2 separate regions of the Homo sapiens genome follow, and region 2 is linked to region 1. Evidence: fine-mapped expression QTL. Tissue or cell type: esophagus mucosa. Region 1 holds a variant in brackets; the other region holds the start of a gene. All regions are shown on one strand. Distances are between the middles of the regions.

The links. PIP is the estimated chance that this variant, and not a neighbour inherited with it, causes the effect.
Region 2: REPS1 starts here. The variant in region 1 is fine-mapped to the expression of REPS1 in esophagus mucosa (GTEx, PIP above 0.99).

The regions. Positions count from the first base shown.
Region 1 is chr6:138,830,871-138,838,976 of GRCh38, reverse strand. It overlaps ECT2L (epithelial cell transforming 2 like), which reads right to left. Exons shown (of 22, transcript NM_001077706.3): 5 at 463-625. Among named protein-coding and RNA genes, the nearest start is that of ECT2L, 39 kb to the right of the region's middle. The variant T/C (reference allele first, on the strand shown) is at 4,259.
Region 2 is chr6:138,985,075-138,993,180 of GRCh38, reverse strand. It overlaps REPS1 (RALBP1 associated Eps domain containing 1), which reads left to right and starts at 4,928. Exons shown (of 20, transcript NM_001286611.2): 1 at 4,928-5,651. The coding sequence starts at 5,499. RefSeq lists silencers at 4,697-4,936, 5,127-5,426.

The DNA.
Region 1 (8,106 bases):
AACCCCGTCTCTACTAAAAATACAAAAATTAGCTGGGCGTGGTGGCACGCGCCTGTAATCCCAGCTACTCAGGAGGCTGAGGTGGGAGAGTCACTTGAACCCAGGAGGCGGAGGAGGTTGTAGTGAGCTGAGATCACGCCACTGCACTCCAGCCTGGGCAACAGAGCGAGACTCCGTCTCAAAAAGGAACTTCTTTAACCAAGATAAAATGTTTTCTAAACAATTATACTGAGTATTTAAAGATTTTTTAAGTAACAGGAATTATTGGACTAGTCTATATTCCTTATTTATAGAAATACATTATTGTATTTCACTTTTCCCCATTTTTTCTCTCAAGGGTAAGTTAATGATGGATCAGGTACCCTCAGCTATTGTCTTCAGGGACGGGAGCTACCCCAGTAGCCTCATTACAGATTACAGCTGTACTTGTGCCCTATTACTAGGAAGTGGCAAATAGTAAACCTGTTCAGTTAAAAACTTCCAGGGCCAGCTGACTTGGGCAGCGGCACACAAATCTTTCGGACTCAAAAAGGAAAAGATATATAGAGAAATGAAGCGTGGTAACACTGTAGAGAAGTCCACTTTGGCCACTTGCATCCTTTCTGAAAACCAGTCTTGGACAAACCTAAAAAGAAAGAGAAATTTAGTTTAGAACACTAATGTCTAAAATTTACTAAAAAGTCAGCATAAATATTGGTCATTGATCTTCCTCCAATGTTCTACCTATAAAAAATAAATCCTAACAAAACATAAATCTAGATTTAAAAAATTTTCAGGCCAGGTGCCGTGGCTCATGCTTGTAATCCTGGCACTTTGGGAGGCCAAGGTGGGTGGATCACTTGAGGTTAGGGGTTCAAGACCAGCCTAGCCAACATGGCAAAACTCTGTCTCTACTAAAAATACAAAACATTAGCTGAGTATGGTGGTGCGTGCCTGTAATCCCAGCTACTTGGAAGGCCAAGGCAGGAGAATCACTTGAACCCAGGAGACTGAGGTTGCAGTGAGCCGAGACCGTGCTACTGCACTCCAGCCTGGGCAACAGAGTAAGACTCTGTCTCAAAAAAAAAAAAAAAAGTATTCACTTTGAATTATCCATTCTAAAAAGGAAGACAAAGAACAAGAATATCTAAAATTCACAGGAATAAAACAGTCTTGGAGTAAACCTAGTTTGATGTGATTTTCAAGAGAAAAAGACTATAAAACCTTTTCACTATCAATTTAAAACAACTCAAGATTTTTAATGGAGTTGAAATTCAAAGCAAAGATATATTCACTGAGATTTTCTTGTGTGTGGACGTTTTTGGGTTTTTTTAATTGTTGTTTTTTTTTTTTTTTGAGACCAGTGCTTCTAGAAGAAACTTATTTTTCCTTTTAAGTGGCTGCCTGTATTATAAGACCAAATTCTCTTCCCCACTGGACCTAACACACTATATTATGCGATTTATTTAATCCTTCTTTTGACACAAAGCTGGCCACATTCTGAAATGCCAGTCATTTCTCCTGAATGTGTAGCAGGTATAGAAGAGACTAGTGTGCTGTTACGGGTCAGTAACAGGGTTTGCTCAGCCTGGCGTGGCCACAGGAAGAGTGCGGAGAGACTCAGTGGGGCAATAGCCGTGTGCAGAAGGGGAGAAGGAGACGATTGCTTCTGAATGGCTGGAAGATTGGTTGTTTACAGGGGGTTGGGAAAAATATGAAGATTATGGGAGCTAGGTTTCTCACTTTTGGAAAAAGGATCTACAAGTATGTAAAGGAGGAAAGCTAGACTAATCTATATGCAGTTGGAGAGAAATTGGAGATATCACTAAAATCTCATGTTTTAAAATATGTATATAAATGAATGATACACAGAGACAGATGGCTGTATATGTACACGTGTGTACATATATTTCATGTTAGAGCACCTAAAAGCAATAACATCCCAGAAGCAATGAACACACCATAAACTCAGATCTTGGTTTCTCAATTCCGTTTCCTAATAAAACAAACCAGAGCTTACTGGAGAAATGGTATACTGATACCAGGGCAGGGACAAGGAAAGTATAAGATGGGTCTGGAACATTTTGACACCAGAAAATAAGGAAGTACTTAAAGAATCATGGACATACCAAAAGAATACAGAAGCTAATTTATTAATAAAGTCACTCCCACTGGCAAAATATGGAATAATTTGAGTATCAAAGTATATAATTAATGTAATATAGCCTATTGAATAAAACAGGCGTTCCTGAGTCCATACTGATATAAATATACCCATGAATGAATAAATAAATAGGGGAGAAGGAAAACTACCTCACAACAGAACACCAATTAGTACAAGCAGAAGGAATTAAGAAATCAGGAAATCACCACTTGGAGGCCATCATAGTAATAATTGCTTCAGGTAAGAATCATCAATGAGTGGCTCACGCCTGTAATCCCAGCACTTTGGGAGGCCGAGGTGGGTGGATCACCTGAGGTCAGGAGTTTGAAACCAGCCTGGCCAATGTGGTGAAACCTGTCTCTACTAAAAATACAAAAGTTAGCCGGGCATGGTGGTGTACGCTTGTAATCCCAGCTACTCAGGAGGCTGAGGCAGGAGAATCGCTTGAACATGGGAGGTGGAGGTTGCAGTGAGCCGAGATCGCGCCACTGTACTCCAGCCTGGGTGACGAGCAAAACTCCATCTCAAAAAAAAAAAAAAAAAAGATTAATGAATGCTAAAAGTAGTGGGTGAAAGCTTGATAAGAAACAGGATATTTACATAGAATAGTTTTTGATTACTTTAAAATTAATCAAATACTTTTAAATTGCTTATTAAATATAAATTAAGTACAAAATACTTAATTAGCTATCTTAACCAAGGGATGTAATCTCCAGCTATGGGACAAATTGATATGCTATGCCCCCCGACGCGATCCACTGAGAACACAGCATCATTTCCGCGCTATTCCTGCCAAGAAGGCATAACCTGAGCGTAATCTTGAGGAACCATCACCCAACCAGAAATCGAGGGTCATTCAACAAAGCAGCAGGCCTGTGCTCTTCAAAAGTATCAAGTCATAAGAGACAAGGAAAACCTGAGCATTTGCTCCACATTGAAGGCAGATCTAGAGACATGGAAACTAAATACAGTAGATAACCCTGGGCTGGATTCTGGACCAAATGGAAAAGGGTGATTATAAAGGACATTGCTGGAGCAATCAGGAATATGGGAATGGAGTCTGCAGGGTGGATGTAGTATTGTATCAGTGCTGATTTCCTGGTAATGCTGGATGTACTTTGATTTTTCAGCAGTGTGTCCTTGTGTTTTAGGAAACACACATTGACACACTTAAGGTAATGGGCATCATGTTCGTAATTTACTCTCAAGTGATTCTAAATAATAAGGCAAAAATGGTAAAATGTTAGCTATTAAACTGTTAACTATTTTTTTTTTTTTTTTTGAGACAGGGCCTGGCTCTGTCACCCAGGCTGGAGGGCAGTGGCGCAATCTCAGTTCACTGCAACCTCTGCCTCCCGGCCTCAAGCAATCCTCCCACCTCAGCCTCCCAAATTGCTGGGGACTCCAGGCATGCACCACCATACCCGGCTAATTTTTTTGTATTTTTAATGGAGATGTGGTTTCACTATGTTGCCCAGGTTGGTTTTGAACTCTTAAGCTCAAGCGATCCGCCTGCCTTGGCCTCCCAAAGTGCTGGGATTACAGGCTTGAGCCACTGCGCCTGGCCATAACTATTAAAATGTTAACTAAATGAGGAAGTCCAGGTGAAAGGGATAAAGACATTATTTGTACTATTCTTGCAACTTTTCTGTAAGTTAAAAATTATTGCAAAATGAAAAGTTTTTTTTAAGTGGCTAAAATTTTTTTTTTAAGTTTGCTTCAGTTCCAAGTTTTAACGATTTATTTTCTGTGTTCTTCCTCCCCTGGCCTTAAGTCACTGCTGTTTTTTTGATCCCTGTCCATGTAGCCTTGTCACATCCTGAGACAAAACAGAGTGGCGTAAAATGAACCTGTTGGCAGGCCGTTGTGAGGAAAGAGACAGAGAGAGAGAATGAGAGTGTGTGTGTGTGTGTGTGTGTGTGTGTGTGTGTGTGTGTGTAAACGGGGGCAAAGAATGGAGCCGGGCCTGTACTGGTAGCATGTAGTATCCACAGACAGAAGTGTCACTTGAGGATCTTGTCAGTATCAACAATAAAGCACAGGTAATAACTGTCATTTCCTTAGAGATTAACATTCAAGCTGAACAAGACTGTGACAATGCCAAGAACAGTTAAT[T/C]TCTAATGAATTACTGTCCTCATTGCCTGAGTTAGACTTCAGGATCATTTTGCTAGCCTTTGAGATAAGTTTTACTCTCATTTACTTGGAATTATAAAATACAGTAATAAAATAAGAGGCAAAACAGAGATGTTTCCGGCCTCCTTTCCAAAGAAGGGTCTCAGTATCTTTAGATTTTCATGTCTACTACCTTCCCACCTCACAGCATCTATTGTTCCATCCCAGCAGAGCAAAGGAGAATTGAATATGAATTACTTCCAAAAGTAAACCTTGGTTATACATGTTTTATATTTGTTCCTATTCTATGCTGCTACAAGGACACGTTTGAGTATAATGAATCTTAAGAAGAAAGAAAAATGCTTCCGTCACATTAAAAAAAAATACATGATCAGCAGAACTAAGGTAGGGTAGTTTGTAGTAATGACATTGCAGGGCTCATCACATTTTAGTTAATGTTGCAAAGTAAGAAATCTGTGAAGAGAAATAACAACATGTAAGGAGACAGTGAAAAAATGTGTTTTGCTCATTTATTGTGACGAGGATGGTGTCATTTAAATAATTCATGATAATGCTTTGCAGTGTGCCACTGAATGTACAATGTGTACTTTGCAAAAATAACAAAGCTTAGTAATGTGGGACTTGAATTTAATTATCTGCTCTTAAATTTCTGATAAGAAGTAGAAGCTGCCAAAATTGTGATGAAAATGACTAGGAGAACAGCTTGGAGAGAGGCCTGTGGAGGGGAGAGTGGATTTGGCAGAGGTCCCTGTTTTCTGGTTGCCTAGGTAGCACCTCTAAGCCTTGTCGGGTGGCTTCTTTACAAACACTTTTATGGCTTGGTCAGGGTCTGGGTGCTGTTCATACCCCAGTTTCAGTCCCTGGTGCATTTTTTTTTAATTATTTATTTATTTATTTTTGAGCTGGAGTCTTGCTCTGTCACCCAGGCTGGAGTACTGTGGCGTGATCTCTGCTCACTGCAACCTCCACCTTCTGGATTCAAGCGATTCTCCTGTCTCAGCCTCCTGAGCAGCTGGGATTACAGGTGCATGCCACCAAGCCCGGCTAATTTTTGTATTTTAGTGAAGACAGGGTTTCGTCACGTTGGCCAGGCTGGTCTCAAACTCCTGACCTCAGGTGATCCTCTGGTGCATGTTTTAATGGGGCCAAAAGGAGATGACACAAGGGCAAGGGGAACCATAGGCATCTGTGCAACTCCTGAGTTGCATGAAAAGGAAGACAAGTTGGTAAGTGACAAATACCGATGGCCGTACAAATGTGCTTTTGGATCCAACAATTCGTCTTCTAGGGGTTTTTCCTAAAACAATGATTAAAGATATGTCTAAGGATTTAGCTAAAGGATGTTCCTCTAAGTGTTGTTTTTAGTAGCAAAAGCTGGGGGAAACAAGTTAAATGTCTGAGATAAGTTATGGCATATCTATAAAATCTAATCTTCCTAGAAATCAGTAGACTGAGCTGAAAGGGGAATCTATGTGATATGGTTTGGCTTTATGTCCCCACCCATATCTCATCTCCAATTTTAATCTCCATAATCCCCACATGTCAAGGGAGGGACCTGGTGGTGGGTGAGTGGATCATGGAGGTGGTTTCCCCCACGCTGTTCTTGTGATAGTGAGTTCTCATGAGATCCAATGTTTTATTGGCGTTTGACAGTTCCTCCTTTTCTCTCTCTCTCTCGCCTGCCGCCAGGTAAGATGTGCCTGCTTCCCCTTCCACCGTGATTGTAAGTTTCCTGAGGCCCCCCAACCCATGCAGAACTCTGAGCCAATTAATGCTTTTATATTTATAAATTACCCAGTCTCAGGCAGTTCTTTATAGCAGTGTGAAATGGACTAATATGCTATGAACTAATTTCAAACAGCTAAAAGCACTGGGATTATGAAGCATAATCTCTTCAAATGGAAGAGTAATGAAAAAAGAAATCAGCAAGTTATAAATTAAAAAAAAAACAACAAAAAAACACAAGGACACTAAATGGGAGCTGAAATTGAGAAATTCACAGAAGAATTGGGCCCAGTCTTGATGAGTAGTGCTAGGCTTTCCTACTGACAGGAGTCCAGACCTTGCAGGGAAGAAGCAAGGAAGCACACCTTCTCCTGGGCTGCTAAAGGAAAGGGAGACCTGGGGGAAATCAGAACAGGCCTGTACCTTGCATGGGCTTAAGTCCATATTAAATCTCCTGGCACATTAGAGACCCTGAGCTACCATAGAAACATAAACGCTGGTGAGAAAATAAGAAACCCAAGGGGTTCCTGGAGAGGAAGATACATATGTGAACCATCCCATGTGCCTCCACAACCCAGGGCAGTTATCCTCCCTTTGGAAAATAACCTCAGACTAAAACACCATGAGGGAAGGCCAGCAAATGAAACAAACAAGGGATCCGTCATCTCCAGAACTGAAGGTAATGAAAGAATCCAAGAGATTTTAACATAAACATGCTGAAAATATTCAAAGAGAAATCAAGGTAATAATAGGAGTGAATGTTTGAAATGTTCATTTGGAAAAAAAAAAAACAGACATTTGAAGTAAAAAATATATAGTTTTTGAAATTAAGAGAAAACTGAGTAAGTTGGATAATAAACTTGAAACCAAAGGAGGGAAAACTAGAGAATCTTAAGCAAAATCTGGACCATTGAATATTATAAAGTCATTTAAAATGATAAAAAAAATTGAAGACATTTCACTTAGTTTCATGCACTATTATCCATAGGAGAGTTTCATGCAGCATACAAAGTTCCTGAAATATCTGGTAAATTTTATATCTATGCATATATATGTCTTTCCTGGGGGGAAGATTTATAGTTTTTGGTGTAATTTGAATATCTCTTCTCAAAGGAATACATGATCTAAAATTGTTTAATTAAATTGGTATGTGCATGTTTACTGTGATTGTACAGTTCACGGATTCACTTATTAAATCAACATTATTTTGAATCCCTTCTTACATTCTGCGGTTTTAATGAGACAAAGAAAAATGACACAATTCCTGCCTTTATGGAGCCTACAGTATGGTTAGGGACAGCACCAATTTTTAAAAAAATCTAATAAATAAAGGTGAAATTACAACTGTAGTTAATCTTCTGAAGAAAAAGTACATGTGTGGAAAGGCTTCCCTGCGGGAGCTAAGTGGGTTAAAGGCAACTGGGAGAAGAAGGCAGTGGAGGTAGAAGAGCCTCCTAGGTAGATGGCAATGTCAAGGGCAAAGGCAGCATCCCTGAGGAGCTGGATGAAGGTGAGTTGGGCTGAAGCACCAGGAACTATGGAGAAAGAGGGAAGAGGGGAAGCTGAAGGGGTGGTTAGAGCCATATCCCTGCAGGGCCTTGGATGCCATGTTAAAGGTTACAATTTTTTAAACTAAAACTTTTAAACAGGGGCATGATGACATGGTCTCAGTGCCATTTGAGAAGCCAACACTGACTGCACAGGGAGAGAGTCCAGAATGATGGGGAGACCAATTAGAAGGCCATGGCCATAGCCATAGCCCAGGCCAGAAATAATGGTAGGTTGGCCTAAGCTGGTATTGATAGAGATGTAGAAAATTGAACACATGAGAGATATTGGGGGTAAATTGATAAGTGGTGATTAGATGAGTCTTGGGTTTCTAACTTTTGAAACTGGATGGCTGGTGGTACCATTAAAATAGAGAATATAGTCACATTGTGCTTACGACGATTGTATATACTTGGACATGTTGGTTTTGGGGTGTTCTCAAGACATTCAAAATTAAATATCAAGTAAGCAGCTGGATATATAATTAGGAACTCAAAGGCAATGTCTGGGCCAAAGATAAAAATGGCCTGATCACTGTTAGAGAAATATTAAATAAA
Region 2 (8,106 bases), 150 kb before region 1:
CTTCACATGGTGGCAGTAAGGAGAAGTGCTGAGCAAAAGGGGAAAATCCCCTTATGAAACCAACAGATCTGCTGAGAACTCATTCATTAACAGGAGGACAGCATGGGGGTAACCGCCCCCATGGTTCTGTTACCTCCCAATGGGTTCCTCCCACAACACATGGGAATTATGGAAATTACAATTCAAGATGAGATTTTGGGTGGGAACACAGCCAAACCATATCAAGGAGCAAGTATTTTTTGTTTGTTTGTTCTTTTTTTTTTTTTTGAGACGGAGTCTCGCCTTGTCACCCAGGCTGGAGCACAGTGGTGTGATCTTAGCTTGCTGCAACCTCTGCCTCCCGGGTTCAAGCGAATCTCCTGCCTCAGCCTCCTGAATAGTGGGGATTACAGGCGCACACCACCATGCCCAGCTAAATTTTTTTTTGTAATTTTAGTAGAGGTAGGGTTTCGCCATGTTGGCCAGGCTGGTCTCGAACTTTTGACCTCAGGTGACCCACCTGCCTCAGCCTCCGGAAACGTTGAGACTACAGGTGTGAGCCATCGCGCCCAGCCTAGGGTGCATGCTTATTTGAGGACTGGAACGTGAGAGTGAAAGGACAGCATGTTATGGACTGAGAAAGAAGTTTCAGAGTTCCAGAACTTGGAAGTGAAGCAATCCTATAATTACTTTGGGTTGCTAAAGAGGAGTGGTGCTGGAGGTTTCTAAGGTTAAGGGTGCAAAACTAGGAGGAGATTAGAAGGTAACAGGTCCTTCAATAGCAACATTGTTTCATTATAACATTGATGAGAAAAAATAAATGCATTCCCCGTAGGCACCACTGTCTGTGTGAAGTCTGCATGCTCTCCCTATGTCTGTGTGGGTTTTCTCTGAATCCTCAGGTGTCCCTCCACATCCCAAAGATGTGCACATTAGATAAGTCAGGGTGTCTAAATGGTCCCAGTCTGAGTGAGTGTGGATGTGTGTGTGTGTGTGTGTGTGTGTGTGTGTGTGTGTGTGTGTATACCCTGTGATGCAATCACATCCTAGACAGGGGCTGGGTTCTACCTGTCCCATGAGCCACTGGGATAGGCTCTTGCTACCCACAACCCCGAAATGGAATAAGTAGGTAGGAAAATGAATGAATATAAGTGACTGAAAAATAAAAATGTGTAAAGCATATGATGATCATACAGATGCAAAACAGTAAACAAGGTGGTGCCAGAGAGCTCAGCAAGCCACCATGTTTGTGATGATTTTGAACTTCACTTTGCAGACATTTATTCCTTGATTTAACCCACCACCAGGACAACCGTGGTAACTCACCAATATACCAAAAATAGGGTAAGTAGTTATTTTTTTTTTAGTTAATCATTTTAGTTGCATGTGTAGCTTACCTTTACTTAAATGTTTAATATTAGAAGTGTTTTGGTCTCGATTTAGAAATTTGGTGATTCTGTGACCAGAAATATGTCACAGCAACTTAACTCTTGTTTGTAGCAAATTATCAATTAGCCTATGATAAAATTGGTTTCGTGATACCGTAACCAAGTGCAGCCTTGGCTGTTTGCCCTTTGCAAACCCAATAACAAGGGGTGAAAGGAAAGTGACTTTATTTTTCAAAGCTAGCAGTGGGGAAACAGCCAGCTTACACCTCTGGAAACTGCTTCAAAAGTCTGGGCTGAAGGCAGAGGTTTCAAAAAGGGAACCTTGATATGGGAAACATGCAAGAGTTGTGCCGGGAGCCCGGGCTGTGTGTCTTGCTTCAACGCCTATCTTGAGTTATGGTCCATCTAAAATGCAGGCTGGCGTCATCTCGCCTGTGGCCAGGCTGCAGATTATCTATCTTGAGGCAATCTTTAAGTGGGGGACAATTCTGCAGCTGGGCCTTTGTGCCTAGTTCATTTTAAATTAGCCCCTGGAATTTTTAAGAAGCATACAGTTAGATAAATGTGCATTGGGTAAGGGAGTACATTGTGGGAAATAGAAGGGAGTGGAGTTTCAAAGTATGTTTCAAGGCTATATTTTAAGACTAAAGAGAAAAGGTTTCTACAGTTTGTTTCAAGGTTACAGCTTGAGACTGGCAAGAAAGGAGAAAAGAAAAAAGTTTTCTTTTGAAGCTAAACTACTTGGTTAGAATACCTTGTTTTGCTTAAAATTAGTTTCCACGGACCTATCCACAATAACATTAATTGAGGACTTACTGTATTGAATGGCTTATCACATCAATGTCAAAATTGATGCTTTCATTCATTCAACAAATTATTATTGATACACATTATGTGTCACATACTGGGCTTTGGCACTGTGGCAATGAAGAAATATTTTCCTTCTTTTCTTGCTTGCTTGCTTTCTTTCTCTCTCTCTTTCTTCTTCTTCTTCTTTTTTTTTTTTTTTTTGATACAGAGTCTCGTCCTGTCTCCCAGGTTGGAGTGCAGTGGCACAATCACTGCTCGCTGCAGCCTCTATCTCCTGGGCTCCAGTGATCCTCCCACCTCAGCCTCCCGAGTAGTTGGGACCACAGGTGCACACCATCATGCCTGGCTATTTTTGTATTTTTGGTGGAGATGGTGTTTCACCGTGTTACCCAGCCTGGTCTTGAACTCCTTAGCTCAAGCAATCCACCCACCTCAGCCTCCCAAAGTGCTGGGATTACAGGCATAAGCCACCATGCCTGGTGAAGAAATATTTTCTTAATAACAAACTTAACAAAGAAATTAGACAGGCAAGATAGGGTAGTGATTTTTAGAGTTGAGACAGCCTGGAGTTTGAATCCCAGATCCGGGTATTTAATAGCAACATGACTTACACAATACTTAACCCATTTTGCCTCAGTTTCCTAATCTGTCAAAAAAAAAAAAAAACCTAGTAGTACCACTTAATAGGGTTGTTGTGAATAATGTGGTTATTAGTGTAAAGCTTTAGAACAATGCCTGAAACTTAGTAATTATTCAATAATTAGCCGTTAAAAATGTAACAGCTATATATGTAATGTCAGATAGTGAAAAGTGTTATAAAGAAAAAGAATTCAGGTTGGGTGCAGTGGCTCATGCCTGTAATCCCAGCGCTTTGGGAGGCTGAGGTGGGTGAGCCCAAGAGTTTGAGACCAGCCTGGGTAACATGGCAAAACTCTGTCTCTACAAAAGCCACATACACAAAATTTAGGTGGGCATGGTGGCCTGGGCCTGTGGTCCCAGCTACCTGGGAGGCTGAGGTGGGAGAATCACCTGAGCCTGGGAGGTCGAAGCTACAGTGAGCCAAGATTATGCCACTGCACTCCAGCCTGGGTGACAGTGGGAGACTCTGTCTCAAAAGAGAAAAAAAAGGAATTCAGATAAGGGGATAGTGCATGGTGGGATTATTTTACAGCAGCTGTTGCAGGAAGGCTGCTCTGAGGAGGTGACATATGAGCAGGGACCTGAAACCATATGAGAGAATACGCCATGCCATGGTTTGTGGAAGGACTATTTTAGATGGCAGGAACAAAGGCCCTGGGGCCGACAAGAGCTGCAAGGCCTAGGAGAGGTGGCAGAGAAAAAGATGCAAAGACAATTGTGAGCCAATCCCTACCCCATTGTGCTCTTTCTGTTTACACCTTTGGAAGGCAGCTGTCTGGGGGGGGTCTGATCACTTGCTGCAGGTGCCCTGAAAGGACACATGAGGGGCTGCTGTAGCAAACTGAAAGTCTTAGAGATGGGAAATAAGCTTAATGGATAGTATATACTTACCTTTATCAAATACTACTAGTCAAGTCAGAAGACATTGACAGGTCTAAAATCCCTTATCTTTCTTAAAAAATAGAAAGATAATAGAATGCCTGTGACTGTGTACATATTAACATTCTACAAAGACCTGGAGTGAAATGAGTAAATATTGACACTAAGTGGGATCCATAAAGGCTAGAAATAGCTTCATGCAAGCTTAGTTTAGATTTTGCCTCCAAATGAGGCAGGGCAGGTTTTACTTCCAAAGGGTTACAAAAAAAAGTCTTTGGGTTTTCAGTGCGCTTTGAATTTTGCAATTACAGATAAATGACTGGGAACCTGTAATAATTTCCTCATATGTGTCATTTATAGGATCCGCACTCTGGGAAACAACTTGTAGAAGACAAAATAAAAACCAGAACTCTGGGTAATTCTGCCTTAGCTCCCGTCTTTGAAGTATTTTATATTTGCTAAGTATAAATTCTTAAGATATTCTACTTGAAATAGCTGAAGAATCCCCTCTCTGGGACAGGTGCAGATTAAAAGAGCGCCACTCCATGATTTTCATAAAGGAGAAAATACGGAAGGCAGCCCCTGTGGGCAGCCCCGGGCCTACATGAGTTGATAGAGTTGAAGGTATAAATGTAGAGTATTAAGTTCCCAGTGACCGGAATGACCTGGTGAACAAAGAGGACAACTTTGCCAGTTTTCCCCTCTATTCAGCACATTTTGTTTCTCAGGTAAACATGGCTTGAAGCACGAGTGAGATGAAGCCTCAATGTTGGTGTCTACGTGGAGGCTTCCCGGATAGCCAGGATGTTCATAGCCCGGATGTTCATAGCCCTTCAGAACAGATGGAAATACTGCATTTATCTTCATCTGTACCGAAAAGGTACAGATAGAATGATAATAACCTGAACAAGGCTCCCCTTTCAATCCAATTATTCAGACGCTTAGGACCAGAAACTGCGAAACATAAAAACTGCAACCCGGATCTTAGTTATCTCGGTCTTAATGAGCTGCCGGCTGTTTCCCACTGCACCCCCCTTTCCGGGGGTCTTGCTGCTGAGATCTCCGCGCAGAGGGCGGCTCGGTCATCCCGCCGCCGGGCGCCGGCCACCAGGGGGCGCTGCGGCCTCCTCCCTCTCCCGGGAGCGGCCAAGCCAGCCCGGTGGGTGTTTCTCTCTCCCTCTCGCGCTCTCTCCTCCCGGCCTCACATCCGGGTCTGGAGCGCGGCCGCCGCTGTCACTGTTGGTGCGGGCGCGTCGGGGCCGGGCCGGGGCACTGTAAATGGCGGCGGAGGGAGGCGGAGCGGCGGCCACGCTCAGCCCAGATCCCCCGAAACTTTAGGTTCGAAGCCCCACAACTTTCCGGGAAGCGCTGCCGCTCCGGAGGCGTGGACGGAAGGGGAAGCCGAGGCGGGAAGTCTGGGGGAATCGGCAGGGAGCCGGGGAGACTCGAACCCGCGGCGGGGGCGGAGTCCGCCAGTGCCTCGCGCCTCCGCGGCCCCCGCCTCTTTCTCTGCACCCTCCCCGCGGCCGGAGCCGGAGCCGGAGCCGGAGCCGTAGTCGCAGCCGCAGCCGCAGCCGCGCGCCGGGCCTCGCAGGCAGCGGCGCGGCGAGCGCAGCCGGGCCCCCTCCTCGCGACCTCCGGGCCCTGTTGCTCGGGCGCACCTGGCGCGTGTGAGGCCGGGGCCGGCGTTTTCGGGAAGCTAGCAGGAGGCCGGGCCACGCGCAGCCCCTGCCGGCCCAGGTTCCTGGGGCCGGGCCCCGAGTAGTGCATGCGGGGCGGGGCGGCCGTGAGCCGGAGGCGAAGATGGAAGGCTTAACGCTGAGCGATGCGGAGCAGAAATACTATTCAGATCTCTTCTCCTACTGCGACATTGAGAGCACCAAGAAGGTGGTGGTCAACGGGCGGGTGCTGGAGCTGTTCCGGGCCGCGCAGCTGCCGAACGACGTGGTCCTACAGGTAACGTCGCGTCCCGGGGCCGGCGGGCGGCTTAGGCCTGCAGTCACTGGCCTCCAGGAGTGGGAGTGGGCGCCGATTCCTTGGGGCCCGGCGGGGGGCTGGTTCCTCGGGGGGTCCCCGCAGCGGGCAGGGGCCGCAGGTGCCCGGGAGGCCTGGACTCGCGCCGCGGCCAAGGGGGAGGGGGTTGCCCTTAGAGGACGGAACTCCTGTGGTGGGGGTCTGAAGAGCCTCAGCCGGTATCCCCCACGACCCTGAGAATCTGTGCTCTGTACTGCAAGAGCTATCTCACTTGAAGGATCTTAGGTTGTTAATGTGTGTGAATCCTAGAACCTGGCATATAGAGAGCTTTTCGGATCCTGCAGAGTAGTAAAGTTATCAGTATGGGCAAAATGGTTTTTTTAATTCTTGGATTAACCGAGAAGACGTGATAAAGTGAGTTCTATAGATTTAGGAATCGAAGAAGCAGTTTTTTTAAAGGAAGCAAAATTCTTAGGGAAATTTTTTAAAATGTGAACTACTTAGTAGTTTTACAAGTAGGCATACAAGAAGTTGTAATTATCTGTAGAACGTGTGTATGTGATGAGACTGAACAATGTTTTTCAACAGGCATTCGAAAGCATTTGTGGAACTTGTGGATTTGGGTTGGGAGATGAGTATTGAACAGCTGGTAGGCAGAAGTGCGTTATTTGCCCTAATCTGAAGCCCTGGAGGAGCAAACCCTGTAGGTTTAAAGCCTTTTTTTATCATATCTGCTTTTGAAACAGAGGACTTCCTAGAAGTTCTTATCTAATGTATGTGGTGAGCATTAATGCTACTCTGTTTAATGATTCATAGCTGCTAGTAGGAGTCTGTCTAAACAGTATGTTAGGAACAGGTTTTAAGCTTTCATCTTTTATATTGATCCAAGCTAGTTATCCACATCTCCAAAATTTAAAGCCACATGTATAGGTGTATGTAGTGGACTGCAAAGCATTGGACCAGGGTTTTGAAGGCTGGGTCCTTGACCCTACTCTGCTGTTAACCAGCAGTGTGACTTTGGGTCAGGCACTTTCCATTTTCAAGCATAAGTATGTTCATCCACAGAATGAAGGCAAGTTTCTTCCAACAAAAATTCTGTGAAGAATAAAAATGTCCACACACAGGTCTCTGTTTTAGAAGTTAAGTCTGCATTAACTATGACTAAGTTGAACGAGTTCGATCTTTTTAAATGGTCTTGTGTTTTACATTGCTTTTTTAAAGGTGGGATGTCTTACGTGCCAGTGAAGGGCAACGAGGAGTCCCAAATTCATCCTGTTGAAAAGGGACAAATAGTAAATATTTTGGGCTTTGCTGGCCACATATGCTCTCTGTTGCATATTCTTCTTCTTGTGTTTACAAAACACAAAAATGTAAAGCCATTCTTAGCTCAGGGAGATACAAAACAAAGCCTGTGGTCTGCTAACGAAGGGTGCTGGTAGTGTGGTCTATGGTACTCTCCTGTTACAGCTTTGGAGTAGGACTTAGAGATCTGGTCAGAACATGCTCATTAATCATACTCTTTTTGCTCCTTTTGAAGAAATAACAAAGTATACCTTCAAGTTAGGATCTAAATAAAATTAAGGAAAAGCCTTCTCTGTTCTATTTTAGTTTGTCTTTGAGGTGAGAAAGAGTTGAAATAAAACTTTCAATCTTTTTAATGGGTACACAAAGACTTTAGAACTTGAAATGTAATTTTTAGGACAGACACATTAGCATTAATGAATCTTTACTTCAAACATGTTTAATTCAGTGCAAGTTATTTTTATGTTTTGCTCAATTTTATTAACATTCAAAAAATAAATTTCCATTGTCTTTTGGCATAAAGAGAGAGCTTAAATATTCAGGGTTCAGTTACAAGTTGGAACTCCCTGGAGCAGAACTCTTACAGTTATGTATACTAAATAGCAGTCTAGATATCTTGAAGGCAATTTACTTAAAAATTGGTCTAAGACATAGAAATATGAGACAAAAGGAGAATATGTGCTTAATTCCCTTAAGGGAGTTTGGGATTGTCTGAAAACACAGTCCTCCATTGCTTTCTAAGTGGGAAACATTTGGGGCAGCTCATATCTAATGCTTAGTTCTCTACTTAACACTGGGCTAGGCATTGCAGGCATCAGAAGAGGAGTAAGAAGCTCTTGAGGATCTTGTCAATTATAGGAGTGCTCATGTATAACATAAGGTATAATGTATGCCATAGGAGAGGTGCCAAGTGTTATGAAATGCTAAGGAGGTATGACCAAGAAAGGCTTTTTGACTTAATTCAGATGGACTTTAAATTAGGGTGGAGTGAGGGGAATGGAATTATGAGGGCTTCCAGGCAGAGAAAAGTGATCAGAAGTGGAAAGTGTAGGAGCCTTTTCAAGGACTAGTGTTTTCGGGATAACAGAATATAAAATTAGAAAGAGGCCATATTGGGAAAGACTCTGAAGAAGGG